Homo sapiens: one gene and its partners. The protein of the gene in region 2 interacts with the protein of the main gene of each other region in a pairwise test. Each region holds a gene or a part of one and is shown on either strand. Other genes may lie near its edges. The genes, in order: TNRC6C, PAN2 and PAN3.

Region 1 (10,822 bases), on a different chromosome or scaffold from region 2:
AGCCTAGGTGAGCAGGAGGCTATGCCATCTAGGTTTATGTAACTATACTTTATAATGTTAACACAATGCTGAAATTGTCTGATGACACATTTCTTAGAATGTATCACCATTGTTAAGCTATGCATGACTGTATTAATTCTGTTCCTGGAGCTTTTTTGTTTGTTTGTTTAAAGAAATGGGGTCTCGTTATGTTGCCCAGGCAGGCTTTGAACTCCTGGGCTCAAGCCATCCTTCCACCTCAGCCTCCCAAGTAGCTGGGATTACAGGTGGGGGCTCTCAGATCACTTTCTGCATACCTTTACTATAATGCTAATTAAACTCTATTAAATTTGATATTACTAGCCTGTCCCACTAGACTATTCCTTACTTAGGAATAATCTTATTTTTCTTTCTTTCTTTTTTTTTTTTTGAGACAGAGTTTCGCTCTGTCGCCCAGGCTGGAGTGCAATGGCCCCATCTCAGCTCACTGCAACCTCCGCCTCCTGGGTTCAAATGATTCTCCTGCCTTCACCTCCTGAGTAGCTGGGATTAGAGACATGCGCCACCATGCCCGGCTAATTTTGTATTTTTAGTAGAGATGGGGTTTCACCTTGTTGGTCAGGCTGGTCTCGAACTCCTGACCTCAGATGATCTGCCCGCCTTGGCCTCCCAAAGTACTGGGATTACAGGCATGAGCCACCACGCCCGACCTAATCTTATTTTTCAAATCCCTTCATTTTCCTTCTTCCTGCTTCTCCTTATCCCCCCAAGTACTTTATAAAATGTAAGGGCCTAGAAATATTAGTCATATATTAGTAAACAATTGGAATCACAAATTCAAGTACTCCAAGGAACCAGTCAGTTAACGTAAACAGGCCCAGCGTAAGAACAGCAGCGCAAGCTTGATGATGCTCAGTGGCTACTGATCAAAAGCCTCAGTGTTGGGAACCGTCAGGGGTCGGGGGGCAACGTGACATGGTATGGAGAAAATGCACAGGCCCTTATGAAGGCAAGTGGCTCTGACTGACTGCTGCCATGTGAATCCAATGTCAGACTTTTCAGGTTTCCAAAGGAAGCCAGAAATCTGGAATTTAATATAAAACATTTGCATTAAAAAAATGCCAATTCACAGAAAAAATGTGGGCCAAAAAGGCACATTTGTGGGACTAGGTGCAGCCCACGGACCACTGATTTTTGACCTCTGGTTTAGTGACACTGATGCGTTAGCTGGAGGCTAAAACTGTCTTGAGGATCCATAAAGGATTCCTGATGTGGCAGCCTCAGAGAGGTACACAAGTGAACCACCAAGAAGTCTACGAGGAGGCTGGAGGGCCCAGCTGGTGGGCCAGGGGAGGTCCTGTAGGGCAGTCATAATTGAATTAATGCAGCAGGCAGGACATTCTCCTGTTGAACGCTTATGACAAAAACCAAAAAGGTGCCCAAATGCCCAGGCTGCCCTACACAAGATGGTGATTCCCCAACTCCAGTGGCCCCCGCATGCAGACCTTCTGGGCTTACTGTTTCCTCCCTGCACCATCACTGCCCAACACTACGTATATACTTTAATTCGTGTGTTGTTTGCCACCCTCACTAGATCTAGACCCCTCCATGGCAGGGTTTTGACTGTTTTGCTTCCTGCAGTTTCCCCAGCTACTAGAGTACAGCCTAGTACATGGCAGGTCCCAATAAATTCACTGTGTATGGTGATCTCTGGGCCCTGACATTGCCCAGCAACCCTCCAGGGGCCCCAGTCAAGTCAGTTCTCTGTTCCTGTCCTCTACATGGGCTAATGCATGCTCCCTCTCTACTCGTGCTGCTGCTCCTAGCCAGCCCTCCTCCACTCTGGGCTAGTATTCACACTCCCAGAGAGAAAAGAACCCCAGAAGGTGGCCTTGGCCCTCTGGCCATGACAGCCTGGCCCACCTGTGCAGCGCTCTTTCCTGCTCCTTGCTTCACGAGATGGATGAAGTGCCCTTGTCCTGCTGGACACAGGGATCTCTTCCCTCTTCATTCATTCTCATCTCCACTTGTTCCTTTCTAACAGCTCTGAAACATGCTCACGACTTTGCCACCTTAAAATCTCTCTACTCTGGACCTTGCCCCTCTGGCTGAGAACTGGTCTTCCGTATCTGGGACCTTTTATTGTCCTCACTGGACACTTGGAGCTCTGTGCCTCCTGCTGTGCTCATGGGCATGTCAGTGAACTGACACAGTCATCTGCCAACTTGCCCAAGTTCTGAACCATGTCTATCCTATCTTCTTTGCTCCTGTATCCAAATGGTTACGAAATCTTGGAATCATGCACTGTCATTGCTTTCAAATCCATCATCTCCACCCCAGGCCACCACCGCCACCACCAAAACATTCGCTTGATGTTCTACTGAGTGTGCTTAATATATTTTTTTCTTGAATAGAAAACCACCAGAGGATCCTACTTTGCTCTCACTGGATAATCTTTAGATACAATATTGCACGGTGATAGGGAACTTAAATTATTTTAATGCTATTTGCTATAAAAAACACTACTCGGAGTATTCATGAATATATAATGAGAATAAGCTTTTTTTTTTTTTTTTTTACTTGTAAAGAAACATGAAATACCTTTCCTACCTGGACCAAGCAACGGTGATCGATTCAGCTGAGTACCGGCCTGGTGCGGGGGCGGCGTCTCGACCCTGTGTGTGGTGTTGCTCGTGGTAGTGGTGGTGGTGGTGGTGGTATTGGTCGTGGTACTGCTCTGGATGACCGGGTTGTTTCTATCCCACATGTTTACAGTTTTATTGTTATAGTTGCTTGGGTCCCCCCAAGCTGAGGTACCATCATCAATTTCCATTTTGCGGCGAATGGACGGTGGAGAGGGTTCTTCCCAGCCAGTTGCTTCACTGCTGTCCTTCTGTTTGACCGGTACCGGCCCCCCGATCCACCCTGTTCCTGTCTGTTTCACAGAAGCAGCTCCTCCCCAGTTACTCACATTGTTGTCTTGGGGTTTGCTAGCCCAGTTCTGTTGGGGGCCAGGTTTTAAAGTCTCCCCCCAGTTTGTACCTGGATTGGCCTTTGTATTTGTGCTGTTGCCCCAGCCACTGTTCCCAGATCTCGTGGTGTCATTCCAACCAGACCCTGACCTATTACTGTCAGCATCCCATCCAGATCCATTTTTTTTCCCATCCCCCAAGTGTCCAAGGACAGACGATGAATCTGCCCAATCTCCCCCTCCTGCACTCCAGGCTGGATTTGATCTTTGTCCATCTCCCCAGTGTTGGGATTTGGGCTTTGGAGGCTCACCCCAGGTGGGTGACTTGTCCTCCTGATTTGCGGCCCCACTCCAAGCATGGCCACTCTTGGCAGCAGCAGCAGTACTAACAGCAGTAGAGCTTATCGAGTCCCCCCAAACCCCCGGGCCACTTGGCGCTTTGTTGTTGCTGTCTCCCCAACCTGTGTTTGCTGGCACAGCGGCAGGTGGCGCGTTGACCCACCCAGATACTGAAGAGGTATTTGTACTGTTCATGATGGACCCATCGTTCTTCCCCCCTGAGTTTGAAGCCTGAGTAGCTGCACAACCCCAGGCCTCTGTCCCATTGTCATTTTTCCTTTCAGACCTAGGGGATTCTTCAAATTCCCAGGCAGTGTTTTGCTTTACAGGAGTCTGTCCCCAACCAGTATTAGACAGAACTCTTGGGTCAAGATCATTCCTTGGCAACTGGATGTGCCCTTGGTCTATAATCCCTTTATCTCGCCTTCGGCCTTCTCCCGTTCCTTCCCTCCCAGTGCTTCCTTCATTGTGGTTGCCAGAACCATCACTACTTCCTTCACTTGCTGTAGTTCCAGAAGATGCCGCTTTGGCCCAGGAGTTCATGTGTTCACCACCAGGCTGTACGGTAGGGTTCTGGCTGGTGACACTAGGACTCTCCCACCCTGTTGATCCTTTCCCATTGATGTCACTGTTGGAATGCTGGTTTGGGGGCTTTCCCCATTCCCCATTCACACCGTTAGAGGTGCTTCGGCTGGGGTGGCCCCAAGCTCCTGAATGGATATTACCAACGCCATTGTTGCCACTGCCCCTTCCCCAGGCGAGTATTCCAGGACCAGCAGGAGGTCCTGAATCCCAAGCATTTCCTCCACTTCCTTCCTTTTGCACAGCACTGCTGGATCCATTTTGTTTAGCACTTAATGCTGAGTTCACAGTGTCTCCATTCCCCTGACTGAACCCAGAATTGCTATTTCCTGTGGCAGGGTTACCTGGGGACAGTCCCCACACAGAATTGCTTATTCCTTCAGCACTGCCCCCACTGACTTGAGAAACTGATGATCCATTAGCACCAGGAAGGCCTTGCAGGTGGGGCGGGATGATGGCCCCCATACCAACAGCCATGCCCCAGTTTGGCAGTCCATTTGTCTGCATTGCATTGATAGGGTTGGGTGAAGAGTTCATGGGGTTAGTGTTATTTGGTCCATCAGTGTTAAGGTTCTGAGGTTGTGCGCTGAAAGACACATTCTGAGAAGTGGACGTTTGTGGTTCTGTGCTCTCTTGTGGCAGCAAGTTTCCCCAAGCACCTAAAGTGCCTGTTGGGTTCCCGTTCTGGTTGCCCATATTTTGACCTATGGCACTGACTGGACTGCAAATACTGGAAGGGTTGCCTGTCGCCACGGTTCCTTCATGTCCAAGTACAGGCCAGGCAGCTGGGTTGGCATTAGGATTAAGGTTAAGATTAATGCCAGCATTGGAGTTGGAAGCACCCCAGCAATTCTGACTTCTCCCATCTCCAATCATAGTGTCCATTTTTCCATCCCCACCACTGACAGAGCAGTGAGCCAGGCCAGAGCTGGAGCCTGTGGCTACACCCCACACTCTGGCCGCACTTCCATTACTGTTCGCTCCCCCTGCTCCAAGGGCACTCTGATTAGAAGGGCTTTGGACGAGTGCGCCATTGGTGCCATTATTGCCATTTGTCTTCTTGGTATGTCCAGTGAAGTTGCCCTGGGCACTCCCTGTAGCCATGCTACTGTTCTCTGAGCCACAGTTGGAGGCAGAGTCAGTGTCTGTAGTACATTCTGAGGCAGATTCAGTCTCTGTTCCTGTGATGGAAGGCCACGCCTCCTTGTCAGTCCTATCTATTATCACTTTATCCCAGCTGCAGTTGGCTTCGCTTCTGTAAGTAGGCTGCTGTCCCCAGTGGGAATTTTCATAATGATCTGCCAATCCACTATGACTGAGATCTGAAAAAGATGAAACAAAATTCAAAATTAGATTTTCTACTCATTTGTCAATGAATCAACTGTTAACTAGTCTTTGGGGAAGCTCTTTATTTCAAGTCTTCAAATCTGAATGACAAACACTAAAAAAATGACTTAAAGAAAAAAGCTATTTGTCTTCTTAATAGATCCCATTTTAAAGAGCGTTAATGTTTTTAAAATTATATCAATTCTTACCACTACACTGTACTATTATTCCCCCTGGAGAATACTCACAATGCACGTTAGCACATCAGCATCTCTGAAAGCATCTGTAGTAAAGGCAGCTTTGAAAGATAAGTGACTTTGCAACTCCTATAAATACAGAGACTGAGAAACACTGGCAATGACAGTAAGTTCACGTAGAGTTTTGAATAAAACTTGTAGTTCTCTTTAAGACCTCTAATTAGGTTACAGTATTATATAGAGGCGAAACATGGCTTTCAGTAGAAAAAAATTGTAAATTGCATTGCAGAATCATAACAGAACCAATATTTGGGGTGGGGGAAGTGGTGACGGAAGGAAAGAGAGAAAAGACATATGAGACAATGCTATCTTATGTTATCAAAAATACTAAGGATTAGAAATGTTTAATTAGCTGTATACTACTTTATCTGATCTTATCTGCAATTTGGTTTATCACTGTCTCCTGCACATTCATAATAAAAAAAAAAAATCTGTAGCTCAAGGACATCACTAAAAGAAGAAAAAGAAGGAAGAAGAATCTCAGCCCCACAAGTGCTATCTTTTTGGATCTCTAAAGATTCTCTCAATCCTTGTTTTCTATTTCTTTAGAGCCTTTTCTTTGGAGATCCCTAGAATAACTTTATATGCCATCTTCTTATAGTATTTAACTCTTCGGGTCCTTTTAAAGAATCCCCTGTTTGGATCTACATTTTATTTCCTATGACTTTAACAATTATTTGAGTATTTCCAACATTGCAGTCAAACTTATATTTCGATCAACTTTTTGGCAGACTTTATTCCAAGTATGTATCACTAAAAAATAAAGTAAAAGAAATGTTAAAAAAATAATTTAACCCAAACATACAACAAACTCACATATGTGATTTAGAAATCCTTGGTGAGTTTCTCTAAATACTACAATATACAAATAAACTGCAATAAAATATTTTCTTCTCTTTTAGATCCTTTTAATTATGTTCTCTTCAAATTTATTTTAACAAGAAAAATCGTATGGACAATTAAAACATGAATTTCCCACATAAATTCTCTTTTAAAGTTTGATGGAGCTAAAGGAAAAAAAGGAAGTGTGCAAAAAAAATTAGCATTAGAAAGACCATACTAAAGCTAATATCAACCTAAAAGAGATTTTTATTGCCTGATTTAAGAGTAATGTAATGATTTTAGAATTATGCTCTAGGTGATTTCAAAGTAGGTACGTAATTCCAGGTGAAAACTACAAAGGAAAAATGAAGACAGGCAACAGAAAACTTTAAATGTTGAAACTGCTATAAAATGACTAGGTTCTTTTCACTGCCAATTATTAGGGGTTGGCTCTATAACCCTGGTTTATGACAATTTGGTTTTGCACATACTCTAAAAACTATCTAATATAATAACTAACTAAAGAGATAAATAAGCCATTCCTCATTTAACACAGAAAATAAGACCAAGTTAACACACAGAGATTATGGCTTGTTGCCAGCAAATATTACCACATTTCATTTTACCATCAGTTTGGGTTCCCTCATGGACAGGTTGTGCCATAAGGCAGGCTGCCTCTTGACTAAGACAGCACTCACTGCAACCCACACCGAGAAAGCAGGGGGTTAACAACCTGGCTGACCAATGCATTCTTTTCCATATGTGAGGTGCCATTCGAATACACAGTATTATTGGTTCCATTCCACAACAGTCACACTGTAAAATGATCTGCCCTTTGTTAATGGTCTACTTTGAGGACTTGAGGATTGCTCAGCCCCCAATTTGACAGGTTCATACTCAATTATATGACACGTTTGAAAGAAGGATAGCATTATAAGCTGGTGGCTAATAAATGCTGTTGGACAACTGTCTAGCCACATGAAATGAAAGTAGATCCCTTATATCGTATACATGCCAGATAAAGTAAAGAGCGAATTAGGAAAAGCAAAACTTCTTAAAGCTTATTAAGGAAGCAAAGGAGACCATCTCTATGACCTTGGACATTGTATCATCTTGTAGAAGACATGAAATACGTAAGACATAAACAGGTGATAAATTTGACTATGCTAATATTAAAAACATCTATATAACAAAAGATATCATATAATGAAAGCTAAAAAAACAAGCCACAGGCAGGGAGAAGATACAACAGATAATGTATGGTTATCAGCTTAAAGAATTCCCGGCCAGGCGCAGTGGCTCTCGCCTGTAATCCCAGCACTTTGGGAGGCCGAGGCAGGTGGATCACCTGAGGTCAGGAGTTCGAGACCAGCCTGGCCAACATGGTGAAACCTCGTCTCTACTTACACAAAAATTAGCCGGGTGTGGTGGTGCACGCCTGTGGTTCCAGCTACTTGGGAGTTGAGGCAGGAGTATCACTCGAACCCAAGAGGTGGAGGTTGCAGTGAGCCGAGACTGTGCCACTGCACTCCAGCCTGGGCAACACAGTGAGACTCCATCTCAAAAAAAAAAAAAAGAATCCTAAAAATCGGTAAGAAAGAGGCCAACAACCCAACCAGAAATGGGAAAAGGATAGGAACAGGCAATTTAGAAAAGAGAAAACTCATAAGCCATTAACATATGAAACAATAATCAACCTCATTAATAATCAAGAAATGCACTTTAATGTCACACTGTAGATGAAAGTGACACAACACTACAATTTTTGAATTGTGGTTCCCTCTGGGGGTGGGATGGGGACCAGAATGGGGTTAGAGGATGATACCTATAACATTTTTAAAATAGAGAGCCCTGAAGCAAATATGGCATGATATTATGTTAAATCTCTATTGTGAACACAGTTATATTATTTTCTATATACTTTCTTCTATTGAAAAAATATTTTCAAAATTTTTAATTTTTATGTTTAAATGTGATACAAATCAGGCGGCAGAGCAGTCTGATTAAAAACCCATCTGATCCCTGAATTAAGTGTCTAATTTCTGAAGGTGAGTTCCTTGAGGGCGTGGCAAATATCTTTTTAGTTTTCCATTCAAAATGCTTGCCACATATAGGCAAACAATATATGCTTCCTGGGCAAACAAAACCATACATGCATAGTGCTACAATCTGAGTTCTAGCTGAAGTCACCAATCAGCTGCACTTGTACAGCCCAGACTGCTTTGAACAAGCACGTCCATCTTCTGAGGGAACCACTTCCACTACAATGACGCCGCCTACTCAGACCTTCCCGGGCTTTGAGGTGTAGATCTCAACTATGCCACAGCAAAATAACCACCAATGGGGCAATACTGGCAGGAAGCAAAGTCACTTCTACAAAGGCCAATATCCATCCCCAATAGCTGAAGTGCCCTAAGGATGGCCATATAGGATGCCATAAGGATGAAGTCATGCCTGTTGAGTTTACATATTGGGTATTTCTAGAACCTTTTCCATTAAAACAAGAAATAAAACTTCCCTCTGACTGCCCCTGTTCCAAGCACCCTCATGTCTTGACTGGATTACTGTAAATAACTTTCCAACAGGTCTCTTCCCATGCCCCCTACTGCCCCACCCACAATAATGTGCTCAACACTGCATACAGTGCTCTTTTCCAAATGAATGCCCAGTGGGTCACCAATGGTTGGGTCTCTTTTGAGGCCATTCATATCATTCTTTCTCCTGCTCTGTGCTCCAGACAGTTCCTTGAGGTGCCATCTGTGTCCTGCCCTCCCAAAGACAGGGCTGTTAAAGGTGCCATCCCCTGCCTGGGCTCAATGTCTATTCTTTTTTCCCATCTCAAATCCATGGACATTTAATTTGGGACGTTTTTGTTCCCTAGTTAGGACTCCCTCATACATTCATTGTAACAGTCTTCCTTTCAAGTCACTTAGACCAACCAGGGTGGCAAACAATTTCTGTAAAGGGCCTAATAGCCAAAATGCTTTAGGCTTTGTGGGCCATATAGTCTCTGTCACAACTACTCAATTCTGCTGCTGTGGCACAAAAGCAGAATGAGTGTGGCTGTGTGCCAACAAAACTTTATTTCCAAAAATAGGTGATGGGCCAGATGTGGCTCATGGGCCCAGAGCTTGCCAACTCAATTGAAACAATAACTATTATTGAGTGCCTCCTATATGCAGCTACTGTGCTGGGGACACAGCCATAAACAAGATGAACGACTTCTTTCTCTCATGGAGCACACATTCTAGTGTGAGTCATCGTGTGACTGGCTGGTTCTCCCTCTAGGCTGTAAACACCATGAAGGCAAGGCGTACCTATTCTGGCTCTATTTTTACTGCCAGTGTTCAGCAGAGTATCTGACAGAGAAGAAGCAGTAAATAAACATACATTGAATGAATGAATAATTCTTATCAATACTTGAAAGCAGTTTGCTAGTAATATAAATGATGCTTAAATTTTCAGTCTTGAAGGTAAAGTTAAGATTAAGCTTAGGTTGCCATGTTGACTAGCAACCAACTTAACTGAAGTTACTTGCAAAAATACTGGGTTATCTATTCAGAGAAGTTAGTACAAGAGGAACTGATAGCTCAAAATCTTTTTTAGTTAGAAAAAATTACAACTGAGACTATGAATCTATGTTGAAAACATAGATAGGGTTTGATAATAAGTTATACTACCTCAATCCTAGGTATATACCCAAAAGAAAGGAGATCAGTATATTGAAGAGAGAGCTTCGATGTTTGCTGCAGCACTACTCACAACAACCAAGATTTGGAAGCAACCTATGTGTCCATAAACAGATGAATAAAGAAAATATGGCAGATATACACAATGGAATACTGTTCAGCCATAAAAAGAATAAGATCCTGTCATTTGCAACAACATGGATGGAACTGGAGGTCACTATGTTAATTAAAATAAGCCAGGCACATGAAGACAAGCTTTGCATGTTCTCACTTATTTGTGGGAGTTAAAAACGAACATAATTGAACTTATGAAGATAGAGGCTAGGAAGGGTAGTGCGAGAGTGAGGGGTGGGGAGAAGTGGAGAAGGGTTAATGGGTACAAAAAATAATCAGAAAGAATAAATAAGACCTAGTAATTACTAGCATAACAGGCTTACTATAGCTAAAAATAATTTCACTGTCCATTTAAAAAATACATAAAAGAGTATAATAGGATTATTTGTAACACAATGGATAAATACTTGAGATGACTGATACCCCATTTATCCTGATGTGATTATTACACATTGCATGCCTGTATCAAAATATCTCATGTAACCCATAAATATATATACCTTCTATGTACCCACAGAAATAAAAAAAATTATAAAAAATATGTTTTACTATAGAAGTCAATTTGGAACAATGCTATTTTACTTAAGAAGGAACCAATCAACCAACCAACCATCTCTTTTCTCCCACCTCTATAGCCTCCTTGCACTTCTTGGGATAGGCTGCAGCCTCGGGGCCACACTGTGGCCTGGTACATCTTCTGTCACAGGAGAGGAGCAGGGAGTGTGCCCAGCCCAGCCCAGCCC
Region 2 (10,822 bases):
GCTATAGCAAAGACCCAGCATTGCCCAGAAAAGGCATAAATTATACCTTTTTCCCCTTTTTTTGAGACGGAGTCTCGCCCTATCGCCCAGGCTGGCATACAGTGGCGTGATCTCGGCTCACTGCAACCTCCGCCTCCCGGGTTGAAGCAATTTTCTGCCTCAGCTAGGGTTACAGTCGCCATCCACCACTCCCAGCTAATTTTTGTATTTTTAGTAGAGACGGGGTTTCACCATCTTGGTCAGGCTGGTCTTTAACTCCTGACCTCGTGTTCCACCCACCTCTGCCTCCCAAAGTGCTAGGATTACAGAAGTGAGCCACCGCGCCCGGCCTAATTATACCCTTTCATATCCATAACTTTGGATTCCGGACCTTTACCTTCAAAGGAAGGAGAGGAAGACTGAAGCCAGAGAACCCACACTAGCAGTTCTCTAATGAGATAAATAACAAACGATATTTTATTTTTATTTTATAAAACATGCAGTTTACAACAAATTTTTAAAAAATGGAACAAAACTTGGGACAGGCAAGTGGGATGGAAGACAGATGCTTCTCAGCCATCAGCAGGAATAAATGAAGCCGGCAGCCAAGCTTTGTCCAGGATCCAAAGGCCCTTTTGGCAATGGTATTGGCAACACTGGTTTGCTTGGGCCACCAACACTCTACTTGCTGGCCCCTCCAGGTATCCCTGAAGCAGTTGGTGACTTGTGCTAAGTCTTGAACTACTGTGGTATCCTCTGTCACTGTCCAGGACTTCAATCCCTAGCCAGCTAGGAACTTACAGTTATGGTTCCAGGAGCTTCTCTGCCTGGATATTAGTCACCCAGGATATTAAGAATACCAATTACTTTCCATCTGGGTCAATTCTAGACTCCATGTCTGTACCACTGTTTTGCAAAGAATGAAGAAGGAATGAATCTGGCTCCTAGAACCTTTGCAACAATTCTGCTGTGTTCCAGTTCAATTAATAGCACCATCTGTGACCCTAGACCCTGAGCACGTCCAGTACTGGAAGTGGACAAGGTATAGCCAACTTAGGAAGCCATCTCCCAGTTCTGGGGCTATAGAACAGTAAAGGGAGAGGGCCGTGGTTCTTTGGGAAGGGTAGTCAGAGCGCCAGCACTGAGGAGAAGACAGCTGCATCTGTCAGAGACAAAACCAAAAGCATGATTCAAGCTGAGTGGAGAAAAAGCATCTTCTCATACTTCCTATGAAGGAAAAATGCAAGAGAAAAAAGGGCATGGACCTTCCCTGAACATTTTAGACTTGGGCAAGAGGAAGTTATAGTTAATGGAGAGTTTCGATAAAATGTATTTTACTGAATGTTAGGAGGATGAAGTGCTTTGTAAACTGTTAAGTGCTATTCTCCATATGTGCAATCAAAATCCACCCAATTGGGGGCGCTCAGGCTCATGCCTGTAATCCCAGCACTTTGTGAGCCCAAGGTGGGTGGATCGCTTGAGCCCAGGAGTTTAAGACCAGCCTGGGCAACATGGCAAAATCCTGTTTCTACAAAAAGTACAAAAATTAGCTGGGTGTGGTGGTGTGTGCCTGTTGTCCCAGGTACTTGGGAGGCTGAGGTGGGAGAATCACTTGAGCCCAGGAAGTCGAGGCTGCAGTGAGCTGTAATCACGCTACTGCACTTCAGCCTGGGTGACAGAGTGAGACCCTGTCACAAACAAACAAAATACAAAATCCACCCAGTCCAGTTTCCCTTGTCCCATCCCAGGTCTTACTCTTGGGACTTGTTTGGCCCTCAGGCTCAGGCACCTTCCAGTCCATCTTTCTGCCCTTCTCATAAAGACCCTTGAGCACCTTGTGGAAAGACTCAGGCTCAGTGCCATTTTTGCTTAGCTCCAGATACTTTCGGTACAGCTGAAGGGCTGTGCGGGCATCCTCAATACTGTCATGGGTTTCCCCTTGAATCTTCAGGTCTGGGGTAAGTAAAGGTGGAATAGTTTGGGACCCAGCAAAGGGAGGTAGGAACATGTCTCCCCACTCCTACCTGACTCCAGAAAACTAAAAAGCCTGACTGCCCTTAAGGAAAATTGTCAGACATCTTCCTCAGTGCACAGAAGGGATATTGAAGTTAATTAAATCCATTAGTAACTGTCACCACTAACTGAGGGTCTCCCCTACTCCCATTTTGTCCTCTAACACTTTTCCTACTTTTTCTTTTCCCCCCATGCTTTTATTTTTTATATTTAAATTTTATTTTAGATTTGGGGTACATGTGCATGTTTGTTACATGGGTGTATCGTGTACTGGTGGGGACTGGGCTTCTGGTATCCCTAATATGCAAATAGTGAACTATGCACCCAATACGTAATTTTCAACCCTCACCCCTCACCCACCACCCCAACTTTTAGAGTCCCTAATGTCATTCTTATGTCCATATGTACTCATTGTTTAGTTCCAACTTATAAGTGAGAATATGTGGTATTTGATTTTCTGTTTCTGAGTTAGTTCACTTAGTATGATGGCCCACAGCTCCATCCATGTTGCCGCAAAGAACATGATTTCTTTTTTTTTAAATGGCTGCTTCTGCTATTAATGTAGCAGGGGCCTACAAGGCAGAGCAACTCACCCAGAAAGTACCAAGCAAGGAATCGCAGGGAAATCATTCGTTTTCGGGGCATATGGAACAGGTAGACAGTGTCAAGGACTTGGTCCTTGGGCACCTGGCAAGGATAAAAGAGGGGGAGACTTAAGGTAGGGGACCTATAATTCCCCATTCTCTAAAGGCACAATGTATACCCTGAGGGGCCCACTCTCACAAGAAGACTCTTAAAAGAGCCCTGCCAAACCATCAGGTTGATGACCCGGAAGTCCTTCTGCAGGCCATGACCCACAAACTTGACTCCAATGTCAATGAGAAAACGAAGCTTTAAGTAGGTAGACTTGAGAGTTGTTAGGTGCTTGGAGGAAATTTTGGCATCGAGGTCACCAGGCTTTATACCCGAGTATTGAGTCAAGTAATCCACCACCTAGGAATAGAGAAAAGGACAAGCCTTTTTCAGGAAGTGAGATGGAGTCTTCCCCTATCACTCTTCCCTGGGTTCTTGAGCACTGTAAGTAAGCACCAGGGTGTGCCTCACTTGCATCTCCATATCCTAATACCTGCTCCTGGGTAGAGATGTAGTCATCAATGAAGGGGATACCCTCATTGGGTCCCTGGCCCCGAACACAGGTAATCCTGGCTACTGACATCTGGCTTGGTTTAATGGTAGACTTGGTACCATCACTGCGTAACTCTGCTTCCTCCTACATGAGAAGAGTTAATAAGGAAATCAGAGAAATGCTTACAACTCCTAATATCCTCAGCGTTCTCTTCCAATGCCCCATCCCTTTGGTCTTGGTTACCTCATTAAGGGTGACAAACTCAGCATCCAGACCCACCAGGTCCCCAATCTGTGGCATCTCATTCAGCATCAGTGGAATAAAGGTAGTATGTGTTTTCCGCTGCTTCCGTGCCAGCGAGGCTTCAGCCAGCAAGACACTTGCCTCAATAGGGTTCTTGACTAGAAGGGAGAATGCAGAGGACACAGGGCTTGGATAGGGAAGTGACTAGGGGAGAGAAGCCCAGTGTGGCTGATCATCGACTCTGGGTCTTCACTGTGATCCCTCAATAATCAAAGCACGTGAGAAAAAAGATCATGTCTGATAAATGGGACAGGTAGACAGAGCAGGTCACATCACAAAATTATCAACAAACATGCTGAGAAAAAACCAGAAAAGACCACAGAGAAGAAAGAATAAGATTTTCACTTGGACCTTAGTTTACAGAATCCAGAAAAAGGTTACAGAGAAACTATGGTTTAAAGGTACCAAATAGGTACTTAATAAGGAGCTCATAGCCAGGCGCGGTGGCTAATGCCTGTAATCCCAGCACTTTGGGAGGCCGAGGCGGGCGGATCACCTGAGGTCAGGAGTTTGAGACCAGCCTGCCCAACATGGTGAAACCCCGTCTCTACTAATTAGACACAAAAAAAAATTAGCCGGGCGTGGTGGCACATGCCTGTAATCCCAGCTACTTGGGAGGCTGAGGCAGGGGAATCGCTTGAACCCGGGAGGCAGAGGTCGCAGTGAGCTGAGATCATGCCATTGCACTCCAGCCTGGGCAACAAGAGCGAAACTCTGTCTCAAAAAAAAGAATAATTAGATGTAACATCATAACCTAAGCCATTCTGATCAAACATCCCCCCCTCATCTCATTTCCACTCCACTCTCAAGACTTACAGCTGCTTTTTTTTTTTTTTTTTTTTTTTAAGACAGGGTCTCAGGCTGGGCACTGTGGCTCACGCCTGTAAACCCAGCACTTTGGAAGGCCAAGGAGGGTGGATCACGAGGTCAGGAGTTCAAGACCAACCTGGCCAACATGGTGAAACCCTGTCTCTACTAAAAATACAAAAAATTAGCCGGACATGGTGGCAGGTGCCTGTAGTCCCAGCTACTCGGGAGGCTGAGGCAGGAGAACTGCTTGAACCCGGGAGGTGGAGGTCGCAGTGAGCCAAAATTGTGCCATTGCACTCCAGCCTGGGTGACAAGAGTGAAACTCTGTCCAAAAAAAAAAAAAAAAGCAGTCTCATCCTGTTGCCCAGGCTGGAGTACACTGGTGCAATCATGGCTCACTCACTGCAGCCTTGACCTCCTGGGCTCAAGTGATCCTCCCGCCTCAGCTTCTCCAATAGCTGGGACCACAAGTATATGCCACCACACTCAGCTAAATTTTTTTTTTTTTTTTTGAGACAGGGTTTCACTCTCGTCACCCAGGCTGGAGTGCAATGATGCAATCTTGACTCACTGAAATCTCTGACTCCCAGGCTGAAGTGATTCTCCTGCCTCAGCCTCCCAAGTAGCTGGGACAACAGGAGCACATCACCATACCCAGCTACTTTTTGTATTTTTTGTAGAGACAGGGTTTCACCATGTTGCCCAAACTGGTTTTGAACTCTTGAGCTCAAGTGATCTGCCCGCCTCAGCCTCCCAAAATGCTGGGATTACAGGCCATAAGCCACTGTGCCTGGCCTATACTAGGCTAATTAAAAAAAAAAAAAAAATTTTTTTAGGCTGGGTGTAGTTGCTCACGCCTGTAATCCCAGCACTTTGGGAGGCTGAGGCGGGCAGATCATGAGGTCAGGAGTTCGAGGCCAGCCTGACCAACATGGTGAAACCCTGTCTCTACTAAAAATACAAAAAAATTAGCCGGGTGTGGTGGTGGGCGTCTGTAATCCCAGCTACTCAGGAGGCTGAGGCAGGAGAATCGCTTGAACCCAGGAGGCAGAGGTTGCAGTGAGCCGAGATTGCGCAATTGCACTCCAGCCTGGGTGACAGAGCAAGACTGCATCTCAAAAAAAAAAAAAAAATTTTTTTTCAAAGAGATGGGATCTTGCTATGTTGCTCAGGCTGGATTTCGCACTTCTAAATTTAAGGTCTGATGAGCAGGAATCTCTTTAGTATCTCCAGAAATATTAACACTGGTTACCAATCCTAAGTACTTGCAAGCAATGTCCCAGATCTCACCCTGAAGCCCAATCTAAACTGTCCACACACTTGGGTCTACTATGTAGCACTTACTGTTCAGGTTGTATCTGGAATTGAGATTCCGTTTGACATAATAAAGGATTGCAGGTACTTTCCAATTCATGTCAAACTGCACAGCTTCATGCTATAGAAGAGAAAAAGCACTTATGGCTAATGTATATCACCCTTTTCCTTTTCCCCCACTTCAGACGGAGGCCAGGACTCAGGTGCTAGTTTTTGTTTTTTTTCAGGTGCTATTTTTAAGTGCTAATGGTTTTTATTCCTGAGGATTCCTTCCTCCCTCCCTGTTGAATCTGCCTGGCATTCTATAGAGCCCTAAAGATAAGGATGCTAGGAAAAGGGGAAATGAAAGAAGAAACAGAACATGTTGCAACTAACCTTATCAATAGGTTCAATAAGAAAGTCATTGAACAGATACCACTGCTGGTGAGTAACGCCCTATGGAAATACAAAGAAAGCCTGTGGCGATACAAATTGATGGCTGGACCACTCTGTCTCAGACTCAAGGACAGATCTGGGACTCACTGTGGCCATCCCAGGAGTGTTCCTGCCCTCTACAACCTCACTCACCTCCTTGCGCTGGTGGTAGGTCTCTCCAACTTTGATGTGAGCCACCAGGCTGCCCCCTGTGCGTGAGTCCAGGATGTGTACCACAGTAGCCATCAGGTCATACACATAGACACCATGCTCCTCCTCTGCCCTGGCTGGGCCCCACTGTGAGGGGGGTACCCAGGCTGCTAAGCTAAGTTTAAGGATGGGGAAGGGAGGGGAATGGGGACAGAGGACAGGGAGTTGGGGGTATGGGGGATGGGGGACCAGGGTGGGTTATCTCCATCCTAGCCCATCTAGGACCCCAACACTGAACTGAGTGACTATGGAAAATCCCCTAACAGGTAAATACTAGGCCTTATTCTCTTCCTTTTCCCTCTGCTAAGTTTCACCTTCCCCTGCCCTCCTTTACCTTCTGCCCCACCTTCTCTCCCTTATTCCCTTTCCTCTTCCCGGTTTTTCAACAACCTGCATCTCATCCCCATCAGTCCAATTGCAAACATCCAGCCCTTTGTTTTTGGTCATCTTCATGCGAATGGAGAAAGGAAGCCAGACGTTCTTCAACTCCTCAATGGAGGGACACACCAGCACACCCTCTGGACTCCCTAGTTCCTTCCTATCAGGTCAGAAGAATTGGAAATTTGTTCCGAAAGAGGTCTTGATAAGAGGAACCACTGGGCAATTCAATCCTTTGACAACTCCCAAGACAGCACCTACCAATCAGCCAAAGCAAATTCCTTGTTCTTGGAGATTTCCCCACCGTGTTTCTTTACTGCCATCTTGAAGGCAACCTGAACACAGAAGAAAAACATCCAGTTCTTCAGGAATGTAATCATATATGGAGGTCAGAAGGGGGATAAAATGAAAAATTATTCCGGAAGCCTTGTTTCTAGTCTGAGTCCTTACCTCAGCCTGCATTCTCCAGAAATCAGCCTCTTTTGAGCTGTTCACCTCACAATTGATGACAAGAATATCTGGCAGATGGCGGATGTTGCGGGTCTGAATCTGAGAGGAAGAAACAAACAAGGAATGGCAGGGAATGTACAGGAAAAGGAGTCTGGACAGGGACCTGGGTCTGCGTCTTCAAACTGGGATTCCTCACTCCACCAGAGATCCCTGGATGGCAGTGCTGACAGAGCCAGCCCCACATGGGATAGTGGCTGAATCTCCATGGCAGGACCAGGACTCTAGTCCAGTCCAACAGTCCACTCACCGTGGGCTGGTACTTTTCACAGGTGTCACACCAGGCCTGTGTATTCTGGTCCAGGCAGATGCTTCGCTTCAGCACCTGAGCAAAGTCATAGTTCTTCCCAGTTTTATCTGAGGGAAAATTAGATGCTATACTCCTGGTTCTCCCCTCTACCCACAGTTAGTCCCCAACACCCTCTCCCTGATATTACAGGACATTTTGGGGAGCCTTCCCAACTGAGCTGAAGGGTATACCACTTTTGCTACCATCAGGGTAGGAGAGTGTGAAAAGCAGAGTGGATGAGGCTCGCACGGTCTCACTGCCACAGCGGCAGAGGCTGCAGTTCTCCATCTCACAGCTGAAGAGCTGCCCAATAACAGAGTCCCCCGATGAGCAAAAGCTGCTAAGAGTGGAGAGGATGATATATGCACATTGAGGAAGTTAGGAGACCTTTTAAATCACAGAGGGGCCTGTCATGATGGCTTTAACTATTTCTATCCTGATTTCATACCTGCCTCCAGCACCTCGATAAGCCTGTGGTATTTCCAGCTCCTGCATATCTTGATGCAGTTGAGTGAGAATGAAGCGATTCCACCTCTGAATGAGCCTGGCCAGATTGCCCTTGCCTGAGGCCTCATCTGAGTCAGCCAGGATTAGACCGAGGGCTGAGGCCTCAGGAATAGTACGGAATGCCCGAAGAAAATTATTGCCCTGGAAATGTGTTGGTGGAAAGGGGTTATTTTGTCTTTTGTGTCCACCTTCCTTCCCCTTCCATTTTAAGTGTCTCCAAGTACTGACCTGGCAAGGGTCACCACGAGAGAGGTCCAACATGTGAAACAGGAAGCCCAGCTCACATGCCAGACAGAACTCCTTCTGGCAAAGGTGGTTTTGAATTAGACAGCGTACAGGCTCCAGGAAATAGAGCACCTGGAGGGAAAAGCAGAAGAACTGATGTAGGAAACTGGCCTGGGGGTGAGGAGAAATATGGAGGTTAAGTGAGCTGGTGGAGAAAATGTCCCAGAAGCAGGAGTCCACCGAAGCAGTGAGTCCACCAAACCGGTGGAGCTCAGAGGAGACTTGAAAGTTGTAGAGGCAAGAAAGAATTGTAGAGGAGACCATGGTAAAGAGAACACGGCTGAGGAGACCTGGAAAGAGCAGGGTCGAGAGCCATAGGGAAGAAGAAAAGCAGCAGGCACGTTCAAGTTACAGGAATACCCAACCCTTACCTGGATCATGCAGTTACAGTAGGCGTTGGGAATGTGGGGCTCTAATCCAGCAAACAAGGTCTTATTGTAGTGTTTGAAGTCAAAGTCCTCCAGCCCTAGCTTGGAATATTTGATGGTCACCTAAGGTAGAAATTGTCTGAGCAAGACAAGGATATTCTCAGAGTCCCCAAATCTTTCCAGTAGCCACAGCCTTTCCTAGAGCCTTCCTCCTGGGTCCAGGGTGGTAGTTGAAGGCCTCCTGACTGAGTCCTTCAATCCTTTCTCATATGACTTCCTTCCCAGGGTACCTTTCCCCACATCCCACAGGCCCTGATGTCCCCCAGCACCTTGCGGTATTTCTTAGAAACCATGTGGAGATGTGGTTCCTCTTCTCGTCCTACTGGTGACTCAGTGACCTGGCTGAAGCTGTCAAATTCACTGTCTGACTCCTTGAGTCTGTAGGGTATCTAGGGATTTTAGGAAGAGGTAACCTTGTTGGATGTCTTGTCATCTTTGGCTTCACACTCATTTATCCCAACATTGAAACAGCCACCAAGTCCTGAACCTTCTATATTCATAGCACTCTCAGCATCCGCTGCTTCCTTTCTATTTCCACTGCCATCACTCTGCTTCAGCACAGATGGACAACTGTGATGGCGTCCACACTGGTCTCCCTATGTTCACTCTGTCCAGCACACCACTACCAAATTAACCCTTGCAGAATGCTGCTTTCTGTGTATTACTTCCTCTATTATAGACTGGTGTTCAAAGCTTCGCAATCTGGCCACTTCTAATTTTAATCGCTCACTACATCCCAATACCAACAGCTACTCCGGCCAGACTGGTATACTCATGTAGTCCCCCTCAGATATGTGTTTTGCATTTATGCCTCTTGAGATCTTTACTAACACTCTTCTCTCATCTTGGATATTCTCCTCTGTTACTATCTACTTAACTGATATCCCACCTTTCCAGCTTAATACCCAGCTCTTTCATTACACCTTCCTTGGTCACTTTAGCCTGGAATAACATTTTTCCTCCAAACAGCTCTGGCACTAAATGCTTATGACATTCCTTCAGCATTTAACAACAGAACGTAATTTCTGATATGGCTATGTCTTCTCTTCACCAACCAAATACTAAACTTCCTAACAGCAAGGACCCTAGCTTCTCTATCTTTGAATCCTCCCTAACACCTAGCATAGTTCCATCAATTTGGTTGGTTACCAACAGGATCTAAAAACAAAAGAAAGACTAGTAAAGGAAAAAGATAGGAGAAACTTCAGTGGGCCGGGGTCGGGGCTGACCCTCCACTCTGAACACACCTGATTGCGCAGCCTGGTGCGGGGATTGGGCGCATAGCCAATGAAGCCCACCTTCTTCATGGTGCGCAGAATCTCTGCATCCACGGGTGGTGCTCGCCTACAATCCAGCATAGTTCTAGGACTTAAAGAGTTGTGGTGTACACTGGTCCACTCCCCAATCCCCAAGGGTCCAGAGAAAAAGAAAATACTGAAGGTAGACAAAAATCAGGAAAGTAGTAGAATAACAACAGGGCTAGCAGAGAATTCTGGTATCTTGGCCCTTTCCCTGTCCCTCCCGCCTTTTGGCCCAGAGGTAGGGTACAACCTGGGAGCTGGAGCAGAGTTGGCAGCAGGCCAATCAGAGAGAAGTGTGTCAGTGGTGAGTGGGACAGGGATGAGGGAAAGAGGCAGCAGGTCCTGGCTCCAGTCCAGAGGAGGCAGTGAGTCCACGAGACACGGCAAAGCAAACTCAGTCTCACGGGAGTAGGGGTTGAAGGAAGGCTCCGGGGAATCAGTCCAGAGGTGCACACAGCCCTCAGAATCCCCAAAGGCCAGAGCCTGCTTGCTGGCTGACACATCAAATGTCATTAGCAGAGGCCCCACAGGATTCACATGAAAGATATCGGCTGGGTTGGCCAGGCCTGTGGGTTCACAGAATTGGCACTGCCCTACAAAGGAGGAAGAAACCCACTGAGCCCTAGAAAGTGAAAGGGAGCCATATTCTTATGCCCTTCCTATCCTCTTCCCCTGATTTCAGGACAAGATGGGCCCCAAATCCATGCCTAGAGACAGAATGCCACTTCGTGCCTTCCATAAACCACAGATGGTTCGCTACTCAGCAAAGAGCAATTCTACAGTTATTTTGCCTACTTTATCTTTACCTTTTTCCATGTTCCTCATATTCAAGAAAATAAAAGCTCTAATCTCTGGCCAAACCCAAGTAAAACCTTGGGACCCTGATGAAAGGTTACTTCTTTCCCCAACAAAGAGGTTTCAGGATGAGTACTCCTTCGGGTTCTAGCTCTCCTTTGCT
Region 3 (10,822 bases), on a different chromosome or scaffold from region 2:
AATAAATAAATCTCCCCTGCTGAAATCTTACCTATCTTTTGTTGTTATTTATTCCTACATACTGATATTGCAAAACCATTTTAAGTAGCATTTGCTTTTAATTATATTTTGAAGTTAACTGGGTACTGGCCTACAGAAATGCAACTGATGTATTAATCTTACATCCAGCCATTTTCTACAGTTTGTTATTTCAAATAATGTCTAATCTGCAGTCACATGATTTATAGATGGTAGGTTTATTTTCTCCTTTCCGGTCTTTGTGCCTTCCATTTTTTTTTCTTTTTAAACTTTTGCAAAACCTGGCTAAAGCCTCAAATACAATATTAAACAGTTAAGAAAAATTCCAAGATGAATATTTCAAAGGTTATGACAAGTAAGTTCCTTCCCACCTTACCTGGAAAGATCCATCTTAAGGTGTAACAGCCAGACATATTTCTTTTAATTCTTTAGCAATCAAGAGACAACACTCACTAGACGATGCTGAATTTCTGATTACAAGCAGGCATTTTGAGATCTTTATGGCAAATGTATTCCTACTGTATTATTTATGAAATTTTACTAAATTATATCATATTTCATTTATACAGAGTAAGCTAAGGAAAGATACTTTAATACGCTTTAAGAAATATTGTGGTACAGTTAGAACAACCTAGTTTTAAGTCTGGAATCAGTCAGCTGTTTACCAGCCATTGGTCCTGAAGGTTAAGTTACTTAACCTGTCAACTTCAGTATTCCTCATATGTAAAATGGAAATGAAAATAATATGTCACAGGATGTTTGTGAGAAATAAAGTAAGACATGTAAAGTATTTAATTAGTATACTGTCTGGCACACAGTAGTCTCACAAATAGGCCTAATAATTACCATCCTCTCCTGCTTAAGAACCCATACTTCATTAAGTTTCAGGAGATAAAAATATTCTGGTGCACAGTAAAGTAAATCACCATGAATTCTAAAATTATATACTTTTTTTGTGAACTAGAATACTGTCATATGTAGAATTAACAGAAATAAACTAGATGATCAGTAGTACCTTGGGACTGTCCTTTTTTTTTTTTTTTTTTTGAGACAGGGTCTCACTCTGTCACCCCGGCTGGAGTGCAGTGGGGCGATTATAGCCAGCTCACTGCAGTCTTAACCTTCAAGGCTCAAGTGATCCTCCTGCCTCAGCCTCCTGAGTAGCTGGGACTACAAATATGCACCACCACTCCCAGCTAATTTATTTTTTGTAGAGACAGGTTCCCACTATTTCGCTCAGGCTAGTCTCAAACTTCTGGGCTCAAGCAATCCTCCTGCCTCAGCCTCCCAAACTGCTGGGATTACAGGTATGAGCCACCAGGCCCAGCCTGGAACTCTTCTTAATAATGCATAAAACATGTACTACCACGTAAGAATTATAACAGCCTTTAAAAGAAAGGAAGGATCAACTTGCTTTTTACCTGGCATATCTGCTTGATCAATTTGAGCCATTGTTATTAAATGTCTGTTGATCAGCTCCTATGAAACAAAATAAGTATATTTTTATTTAAACACAGATTCTGAAACCTGGAATTCCTATTATAATTAAATAACCTAAGTATTAATATTTTTGGCATATGCACTTTTTAAATATTAAAATCATTTAAATATTAAAACATTTCTAAACATGGTAAAATGTCTGAACTCCAGGCCCAGACAGACTTAGACATGCCATAATTAAGATTGGGTTTAAGTAGATGTGCCCCTTAAACACGGGTAGCTGGGCTACCCAAAACACGTGACTAACGCTGTGGCTGAAAATTCAAGGTCTACTAGTAAACTGGTAATAATTAATTTAAAAAACACTATACTGGTAGAACTCACTTCTATGAAACAAAAATATTTCTGAGAATCTGAGTGTAAAGTGAAATTCTACATACCAAATAACTAGCTGTTTACCAAAAATTAAACAAAACAAAAAAACTTTTAAAAAACATTCTTTTAAAAAAATATTGAGCTCTCTTAAAGTTATTTCCTGAGCCAAACTACTTATTTTTAACCTACATCTATTAGAAAAATACTGTTAGAAACCATTTAAATTATTTATATACTTCAAAGAGCCTTTTCATAGAAATAAAATGAAGTACAGAACAGTGAACCATTTAAATAGCTATTCTATGTTTTATATCCTGCCACATAATTTATTTGAAATTTTTTTAAAAGACAGGTTTCCTTAAAAAAAATACCAATTAAAACTTCTAAATTCGATGTGCTTTACTAGAGCATATTTGATTAAATAATATGATTTGAAAAGAGCTCTGTTCTTTCCCCTGTTCACTAAAGCACAGGAGACATTAAGTATTCCTACTATGAATTCTGAAAGCATACCTGTCGGAGTTCATCAGCCATGAAGAAGGAAGGTGCGTTTGCTTTCGGTTGCATATAAGCAACGTGAGGTGCAGTTGGAGGATAAATATGATAGTTTGGAAACACCTAAAAAGGTAGGAAGGGGGTAAATGTAATCACTCATTTTTCTTTCTTTTTTTCAGATGGAGTCTTGCTCTGTTGCCCAGGCTGGAGTTCAGTGGCGCAATCTCGGCTCACTACAAGCTCTGCCTCCCGGGTTCAAGTGATTCTCCTGCCTCAGCCTCACGTAGCTGGGATTACAGGTACCCACCATCATGCCCAGCTAATTTTTGTATTTTTGTAGAGACAGGGTTTCACCATGTTGGCCAGGCTGGTCTTGAACTCCTGACCTCAGGTGATCCACCTGCCTCGGCCTCCCAAAGTGCTGGGATTACAGGTGTGAGCCACCACACCCAGCCTGACTAATTTTTCATAATCAATAAGCTTTATTATTGTTTTGATAAAATTTTAATCTTTACATGATAGCAATAAATTTTAATACATTTTAAATCTTTAAATAATATTGAAGTAAAAACCTCAGAGAATAGCTGTTAGAGAATACTTTCTGAAAGAATTCATATTAAAAATAATATTTCGGCCAGGCGCAGTGGCTCACAACTGTAATCCCAGCACTCTGGGAGGCTGAGGTGGGCAGATCACCTGAGGTTGGGAGTTCGAGACCAGCCTGACCAAAATGGAGAAACCTGGTCTCTACTGAAAATACAAAATTAGTGGGGCATGGTGGCGCAAGCCTGTAATCCCAGCTACTCAGGAGGCTGAGGCAGGAGAATCACTTGAACCAGGGAGGCAGAGGTTGTGGTGAGTGGAGATTGTGCCATTGTACTCCAGCCTAGGCAACAAGAATGAAACCCCGTCTCAATAAATAAATAAATAAATAAAATAAAAAATTAAAAAAATAAAAATAAACATAATATTTCAGTAATCAATTAAAAATCTAATGAGCCAGCCTGGCCAACATGGTAAAACTCCATCTCTACTAAAAATACAAAAATTATCCTGGCTAACATGGTGAAACCTGTCTCTACTAAAAATACAAAAAATTAGCCGGGTGTGGTGGCATGCACCTGTACTCCCAGTTACTCGGGAGGTTGAGGCAGGAGAATCATTTGAACCCGGAGGTGGAGGTTGCAGTGCACCAAGATTGAACTAACGCATTCCAGCTGGGGTGACAGAGCCGAGACTCCATCTCAAAAAAAAAAACAACAAAAAAAACACAAATTAGCCAGGCTTGGTGGCAGGCACCTATAATCCCAGCTACTCAGGAGACTGAGGCAGGAGAATCGCTTGAAACTGGGAAGTGGAGGCTGCAGTGAGCCGAGATCGTGCCACTGCACTCCAGCCTGGGGGACAGGGGAAGACTCTGTCTCAAAAAAAAAAAAAATCTAATGAGAAAGAAAACATTTCTTCAGATACAGTAAAATTTAAGCTCCATTGAGAAGATAAAAGTAGCTCTTTGGAAGAAATGTCACATAGTCAGCCTTCTGTATCCCTGGGTTCTGTATTCAAGGATTCGACCAACCATGGGTAGGAAATATTCAGGGGAAAAAAATGACAATACAACAAATGAGAAGTAATACAAATTAAAAATACATTATAACAACTATTCACAAAGCACTTATACTGCATTAGGTATTATAAGTAATCTAGAGATAATTTAAAGTATACAGGAGGATGTGTATAAGATCTATGCAAATACTATGTCATTCTATATCAGGGACTTGAGCACCCAGGAATTTTGCTATCTGTGGGCGTCCGGGAATCAATCCCCCTTGGATACTAAATGGCAACTATACAAGCAGTTCATCGCCACTTTTTGAAAGCAACTGGAAGGAAGGAAGGAGAAACTAAAGGTGTTTGGGTACTGGGAGATAAGGAAGTGATATTGCCCTGGCTGCCCAAAGAATTTCCCCTTTCACAGGCATTTTGTGGCCAAACTAAACAAAGTGTTATTCAAACCTACTCTAGGTCAGCAGTTTAAGTGAACAGAAGGATACAATAATACATTTACCTTCCAAGCAAACTACAATAAAGTTACTAAATCAGCTTCCAGCTTCTTGTCTTTCATTCTTTCAACTGGACTCATCCCACCACCCTTTGTTCTCTTTATCACTCTTTTCTCTGCCTCTCCTTCACTGGTCCATGATACAAAATCAAAGTTCAGTTTTAAATATCTTTTCTATTTTTTCATTCTTTCATTTTAAACAATGAAACCTTTTTTCTCTTTTAAAAACGAATTCAGCTGATTTGCGCTGCCCTAACATGACTGCTCTGCTCTGCATCTCAACTAGGAAGCAGTTTTGTGATACTTGTAAGGTTTCCTTTAGCCTGTGTCTGCAGGGAGAATAATATCTCTTTTTTCTTGTGTTGGTTTCCTTACATAAGATAGCATAGTTTAGGCTGGGCATGGTGGCTCACGCCTGTAATCCCGGCACTTCAGAGGCCAAGGTGGGCGGATCATTTGAGGTCAAGAATTTGAGATCAGCCTGGCCAACTGATCAACTGGGTGAAACCTCATCTCTATTAAAGATACAAAAGTTAGCCAGGCATGGTGGTGTGCGTCTGTAGTCCCAGCTACTAGAGGCTGAGGTGAGAGGAATGCTTGAACCCAGGAGGCGGAGGCTGCAGTGAACAAAGACTGAACCACTGCCCTCCAGCCTGGGTGAAATAGCGAACATCCATCTCAAAAAATATATATATTTATATAATTTTATATATTAATTATATATTATATATAATTTATATATAATATATAATTAATTATATATTATATATAATTTATATATAATATATATTAATTATATATAATATATATAATATATATTTATATAATTTAATAACTTTACATATATATAAAATATATATGTATTTTACAATATATTTATAGTTTACAATAGGGTTCATGTTCCTATGGAATCTAATGCCTCTGCTGATCTGACAGGAGGAGGAGCTCAGATGGTAATGAGAGCAATGGGGAGTGGGTGTAAATACGGATGAAACTTCACTTACTCGCCCACTGCTCACCTCCTGCTGTGCGGCCTGGTTCCTAACACTGGTCTCTGGTCCAAGGATTGAGGACCCCTGTTTTAGTGGACTCTGACTTTCTCACTCACTTCATCTACTACTTATTTTTCTAGGGTAAATAAAATAATTTTTGAATATGGATGAAGTAATGAAGCTAAAAAAGGTACAATTTACGTAACATGGAATCCTTCCCTCTCCTTCCCCATTCATTCTCGCCCCCTGACTCCTGTTCCTTCTCCCTCTCCTGGAACATTACTAATTGACTCTGATAAGAAATCTTTCTTTCTGGCCATGTTCTTCCTCTTTTGGTCTTAATATTCATGTTTCCTCTGGGGCCACCTCTTCCCATTTGTTTCACGATTCTTCCCTCACTTCATCGCCAGTCCTTTGGTAGCTCTTTCGTCATCTACAATCATGGCTCTCTTGGGTCTGACTACTCTATCTCCTGAGCATAAGAGCCATACTGCAGGCCCCTTATCATTATGTGTCACTCCACCATCCACAGATCTAGCTGTTAAATAACTACCTCATCTGAAATAAGGGTTTATCATTGATTTGCTTCCAGTAACTACTGAGGACATACCATCTACTTTTTCTAGCTTCTTACTGAGGTTAAACTATCTATACCTATAAACAAATGTCAGCAGGCATCAATTCCAGCTAGTACAAGGTAAACCCATAAGCAAAACATGCCATAAAGACTAAAATAAGAGCATGGATATAATCTAATTTCTGATTAAACCAGTTTAGTCCAAAACTAGAATTATTAGTAAGGCAGAACTAGATTAATTTGAAGAGTTGAGAAGAAGAGACTAGACTTCTCATCTAAGTTAGAAAATGAAATACTTTTTTGCATCACAATAAAAAGCTGCAGGAGGGGGTAGACCGCCTCACAACTAAGAAGGTCCTGTTACAAGAGAGTACTAAAATTTCCTCTTTAATGTAGACATACCATTCCAGTCAAAGGTGCTGGAGTTGTGTCTGTATAGAAGTAAGTCGTCCCACCAACAGTTTCCTTTTGGATCACCTGACCAGAAGACGGAGTCTGAGAAACAGGATTATTAACAGATGTAGAGGCACTAGAAGGCACCATGTAACTTGCTGGATTTGGAGTGTGACTTCTTCTTCTGGGAGCAGGAGAAGTATGTGGAGTAATCTTGGGGGAATGAAGAGGGGAAGACCCAGCAGACAACGACATTCCTGAAGAAGATGTAAAAATGTTTCTTAATGGAGCAATAATTGGTTTTAGAGAACAAGTCTGGAAAATAAAATGCAAACATTCATTTGGAAGAAACATCATCTTTGGGATCGTAAGTGCAAAGATGAAGGAAATAATTTTATCTTGTTTTGTTGTAGAAAAAGCTCTGATTAAAGCAAATGTAAAGTTTCTTTTTTCAAATGTACTTATTTCCAAATATGTTAGCAGATTTACTGCAAGAATAGTCTCCTCCATATCAAGGTTTACATCAGGAAATTTAATAGCAAGAGTGACCAAAAATTTAATAAATTAATGGAAGAGTGGGAAGTAACAGAATTGTGGCTCTTTATAAAATTATGCCTTTTATAAAAGTTTTTCTTTTATAAAAGGCATAATTCCTTTTTTATTAAGAATCATTAACAATACAAATAGCACATTCCCCAAATATATTACAGTATTAAAAATTCAAATTATCTAATGAAGAGCTACTAGATTTCATTCAGCCAAATATAATTAACAAAATTGTTTGAAAAAGCAAAAAAAAAAAAGTTGAAATACATAGCAGCTTAAGTGCCATATTTTTAGTATCAAGCAGTCTGTTGTTTTGATGCCTTTTTGTCATTAACTCTAAACAGGCATACTCTGAAAATTTCTACAGATGCATACTATTTAGAATTAGGCCAATTGATACCATTATGTTCTAGTGGAACAACCACTATGTTCCAGTGGAACAACCACAACCAGTAAGAAACATTATGTGCAAAGCGCCCTCTATTATGAGTTTATTGTGAAGAAAGGGAAAGGACAATTGTCTTTACCCTTCAGGAGATTCCAAGCTAGCTGAGAAAAAAAGACCAGGTCACATGTAAAAGACATAAAATAACTTAAAAAAACCCAAATATAAACTAATACACTACAAACTACATGCATAAATGCTGATGAAATGCAAATTAATTAAAACCAGGTAGCGTTAATCAAAGGCTTAATGGAGGTGATCAGTTCTGAGCAGACTGAAAAGGGTATTTAGAGCAACAGTTACCCTTCCTGAAAAAAATAAGCTTATCCAGGAACTGTTTTCTGGCTATTTGGTGAATGCCTAAAAACCTTCACCACTGAAATAATATGCCACCTCACAATATAAGAAAAGGGCTACCAAAAATGCCCTAGTCACAAAATTATGATTAACAGGGATATGAGTTTCAATTTCTAATAATTCATAAGATACCAACATGTTTTCTGAAAACATGTAGGTGAACAAAAATAAGCAGAGAACTGAGGTAATACTTTTCTTTTCTTTGGATAGCCCTCTGTACTTTCTGAAGAGCCTCAACATAATTATTTCTGGTTTTCTGAGCAACTAAAGTAGGTAGGTGAGGTAAATCAGGCTATAAACACCACAGGACATACATGCAAAGTCAACAGCAAAGCCAAGACTCAAACTCAACTCTCCAAATTCCCAATCTAGTACTCCTACTTACTATAACACAATGTCTACTGCATTGAGATTAAAATAGGATAGGAATTCTCGAGTTATGTCTTAAATGTGTATAAAAGAAACTTTAAAAAAACCCAAACTCCTTAAAAAAAATATGAAGCCAAATTACTATATTTATATAAACCTTTTATTTTATTTTTTAAAAACTATTCCAGAGCTGTTTTTAATCTAACTCTATATTGTACAGTTAATTAAAGGTTAATCCATACAGCAAAAATTATATTAGACTATTATCAATGGATAAAAACTCCCTACTTGTCTAAAATGAAATGCATTTAGACAGATTTTCCTAAAGCTAGTCTCTAAGACTTTCCAAAATAAACTGGCCAAGTAACCAAAGATGAGTAAATTTGTTTACTATTATGACATTAAGTAATACAACAGAACTACAATTCTTGAGCCCTTTCAATGTTTCAGGCACTAATCTAAGTGCTCCACATCCATCAATCTACTTAATCCTCACAACCACCCTGTGAGGTAGGTATAGCATATTTATTTCAGAGGAGAAACTAACTTAAAAGATCAAAATAATTACTGTAAGGACAAATATAGGTAATTCAGCAACATAATCAAGACTCAAACTCAGGTTGATTTAATTCCAAAGTCAGTGCTCTCAGCCAACATGCTATATAGTTGACCAATTCCTAAGTCTTACACACATACGAAAACAGGAAATCAATTACATGTTTTACTAGCTTTAGTGTGACTACTAAAGCTACGTGGGGATGGGGCTATGTGTAGCATTGGCTGAAGGGAAAGATTCTGACATCAAAGTAGGTATGTAAGTGAGACAAAAAGTAGAATCTCTCTTCAAGGCTGAGTACGTGGAAAGAGATTACCATAAAAACAATCTAAGGTGAGTTAAGATAGAAATTCACCTATAGTAGAATTTACTATAGGGTATCAAGAGTTCTCTTAAGAATTCTAAATTTTGTGAGGTTATTTTAATATAAAGTTGCAGAAATAAAATTTGAGTTCATCTGAGCTGAGGCTGACTGGAGTTACTTAAATACATTCAAATGTAAGCTGAGTGCAGTGGTGTGAGCCTGTAGTCCCAGCTACCTGGGGGACTGAGGCAGGAGGATCGCTTGAGCCCAGGGGTTTGAGGCTGCATGAGCCACAAAGCGCCCATGAACAGCCACTGTGCTCCAGTCTGGGTAACATAGCGAGACCCTGTCTCTCTAAGGAAAAAAAAAAAAAGGAAAGCAAAGAAAGAACATTCAAAATAAAACATGTACAACAGTAAGCATCACCACCCCCGCCAATAAGGATAATAGGATACTTAAATTGCATAGGAAATTAAAAACTAAATTACTGAAATACCTAATCTAATCACAAAAGACACAGCTTTGTGTCATCTGTATATTTTATAAGTGTGTTAAAGAACTGAGTAAAATATCTACACATCCACTTGGAGAGAGGTATTCTGTATTTAGTATTATGAAGACAATACTAACAAGATGCCCATTCTTAAGTGCCTACATACAGTACTAAATTATAAACAGCAAGAAAGAATAGAACCACACTACAGGAACAAGTAGTTTAAAATAGGATGCTGAATTAAAATGAGCAGATTCTGCTCAAATTAAGAAAATCTGATTGAAAGTTAAGAATTCTTAATTTAAAATGACATCTTCCATTGCATATTATTTAATGTTTAACCACAGGAATCTTACGCTAAAAGGGTTTCAGGAAACCATTTGATATAATAAAACTAAAGGTCTTCTTTTAATAATGAGGTACATCAGATACACTGTAATAGAAGTTTCTTCTTCTTCATTAGAAATTTCATGTTTCACACATAAATATTCTTGTATAATTTCAATCTTTCCATATACAGCAGGGAAAGGGCTACCAATGGTTACTGGAACACCCTGATATTAACTGACACTCAATCAACAGAGCACTACAGCAAATATAGTAATACATAGAAGATCAGCATAACAACAATCTAGAAGGATGAAAATTTGTATTTTAAATATTCTAAATTAAGAATATTTCACTTTCGTATTTCATTTTTTGTATTTTTTTTTGTCATTTACTCTTGAAATGACATTCTGATGACATCAGTATACAATAATTACACTGTAACTTCTAAAGTGAACATGCAAACTGAGATATTTAAAAGTAATATATGATAAATTAACTGCTTTAGGGCATTTGAAAAATGATTCTCAAAAGTACCCAATTCAAATAAAAGTAAGGAACAACACAGGAATGTCTACTGGAGAAATTAACTGGAACTAACAAAAGAAAGAAATGAGATTTTAAAAACTTCAAGGCTAATCTATAAAGGCAAAGCATCACTGTTTTTTTGGATAACACAATTCTATTTCTGGAAAACCTAAGAGAAACAACATAAAAAACTCCTGGAAAATAATTACAGAATTCATTAATGATTAGAAAATTAATATATACCAAATCAGCACCCTTCCTAAATACAACCAACCAGTTAGGACAATATTATTTCTGGAAAATGAGAGACTAAACTAACATGGACACCCTCCCTCAACCCCTACCAATGTTATGAACACACAGAACTGTGAGATAAAACACAACATCCCAACATTTAAAATATACCTGATCTTAAAAAAAAAAAAAAAAAAAAAAGGGCCCGTCGCAGTGGCTCACACATATAATCCCAGCACTTTGGGAGGCTGAGGCAGGCAGGCCACCTGAGGTCAGGAGTTCAAAACCAGCCTGGCCAACACAGCAAAACCCCA

The links.
Region 1: the proteins of PAN2 (region 2) and TNRC6C interact in binary tests that used the Homo sapiens proteins (3 or more experiments, as listed by UniProt).
Region 3: the proteins of PAN2 (region 2) and PAN3 interact in binary tests that used the Homo sapiens proteins (3 or more experiments, as listed by UniProt).

Annotation. Positions count from the first base shown.
Region 1 is NC_000017.11:78,043,216-78,054,037, reverse strand, and holds part of TNRC6C (trinucleotide repeat-containing gene 6C protein), read right to left. Parts: intron 5,194-10,822; coding exon 2,590-5,193; coding exon of another isoform or gene 2,581-2,589; intron 1-2,580. UniProt on the Homo sapiens protein: Plays a role in RNA-mediated gene silencing by micro-RNAs (miRNAs). Required for miRNA-dependent translational repression of complementary mRNAs by argonaute family proteins.
Region 2 is NC_000012.12:56,316,503-56,327,324, forward strand, and holds the end of PAN2 (PAN2-PAN3 deadenylation complex catalytic subunit PAN2), read right to left. Parts: intron 10,458-10,822; coding exon 10,115-10,457; intron 9,908-10,114; coding exon 9,811-9,907; intron 8,953-9,810; coding exon 8,833-8,952; intron 8,627-8,832; coding exon 8,507-8,626; intron 8,208-8,506; coding exon 8,079-8,207; intron 7,992-8,078; coding exon 7,792-7,991; intron 7,684-7,791; coding exon 7,547-7,683; coding exon of another isoform or gene 7,535-7,546; intron 7,412-7,534; coding exon 7,305-7,411; intron 7,097-7,304; coding exon 6,998-7,096; intron 6,883-6,997; coding exon 6,809-6,882; intron 6,708-6,808; coding exon 6,560-6,707; intron 6,257-6,559; coding exon 6,113-6,256; intron 5,981-6,112; coding exon 5,921-5,980; intron 5,667-5,920; coding exon 5,576-5,666; intron 3,520-5,575; coding exon 3,362-3,519; intron 3,263-3,361; coding exon 3,119-3,262; intron 2,986-3,118; coding exon 2,806-2,985; intron 2,680-2,805; coding exon 2,586-2,679; intron 1,933-2,585; coding exon 1,735-1,932; intron 1,142-1,734; and 3 more. UniProt on the Homo sapiens protein: Catalytic subunit of the poly(A)-nuclease (PAN) deadenylation complex, one of two cytoplasmic mRNA deadenylases involved in general and miRNA-mediated mRNA turnover.
Region 3 is NC_000013.11:28,252,076-28,262,897, reverse strand, and holds part of PAN3 (PAN2-PAN3 deadenylation complex subunit PAN3), read right to left. Parts: intron 6,607-10,822; coding exon 6,359-6,606; intron 2,452-6,358; coding exon 2,347-2,451; intron 1,498-2,346; coding exon 1,440-1,497; intron 1-1,439. UniProt on the Homo sapiens protein: Regulatory subunit of the poly(A)-nuclease (PAN) deadenylation complex, one of two cytoplasmic mRNA deadenylases involved in general and miRNA-mediated mRNA turnover.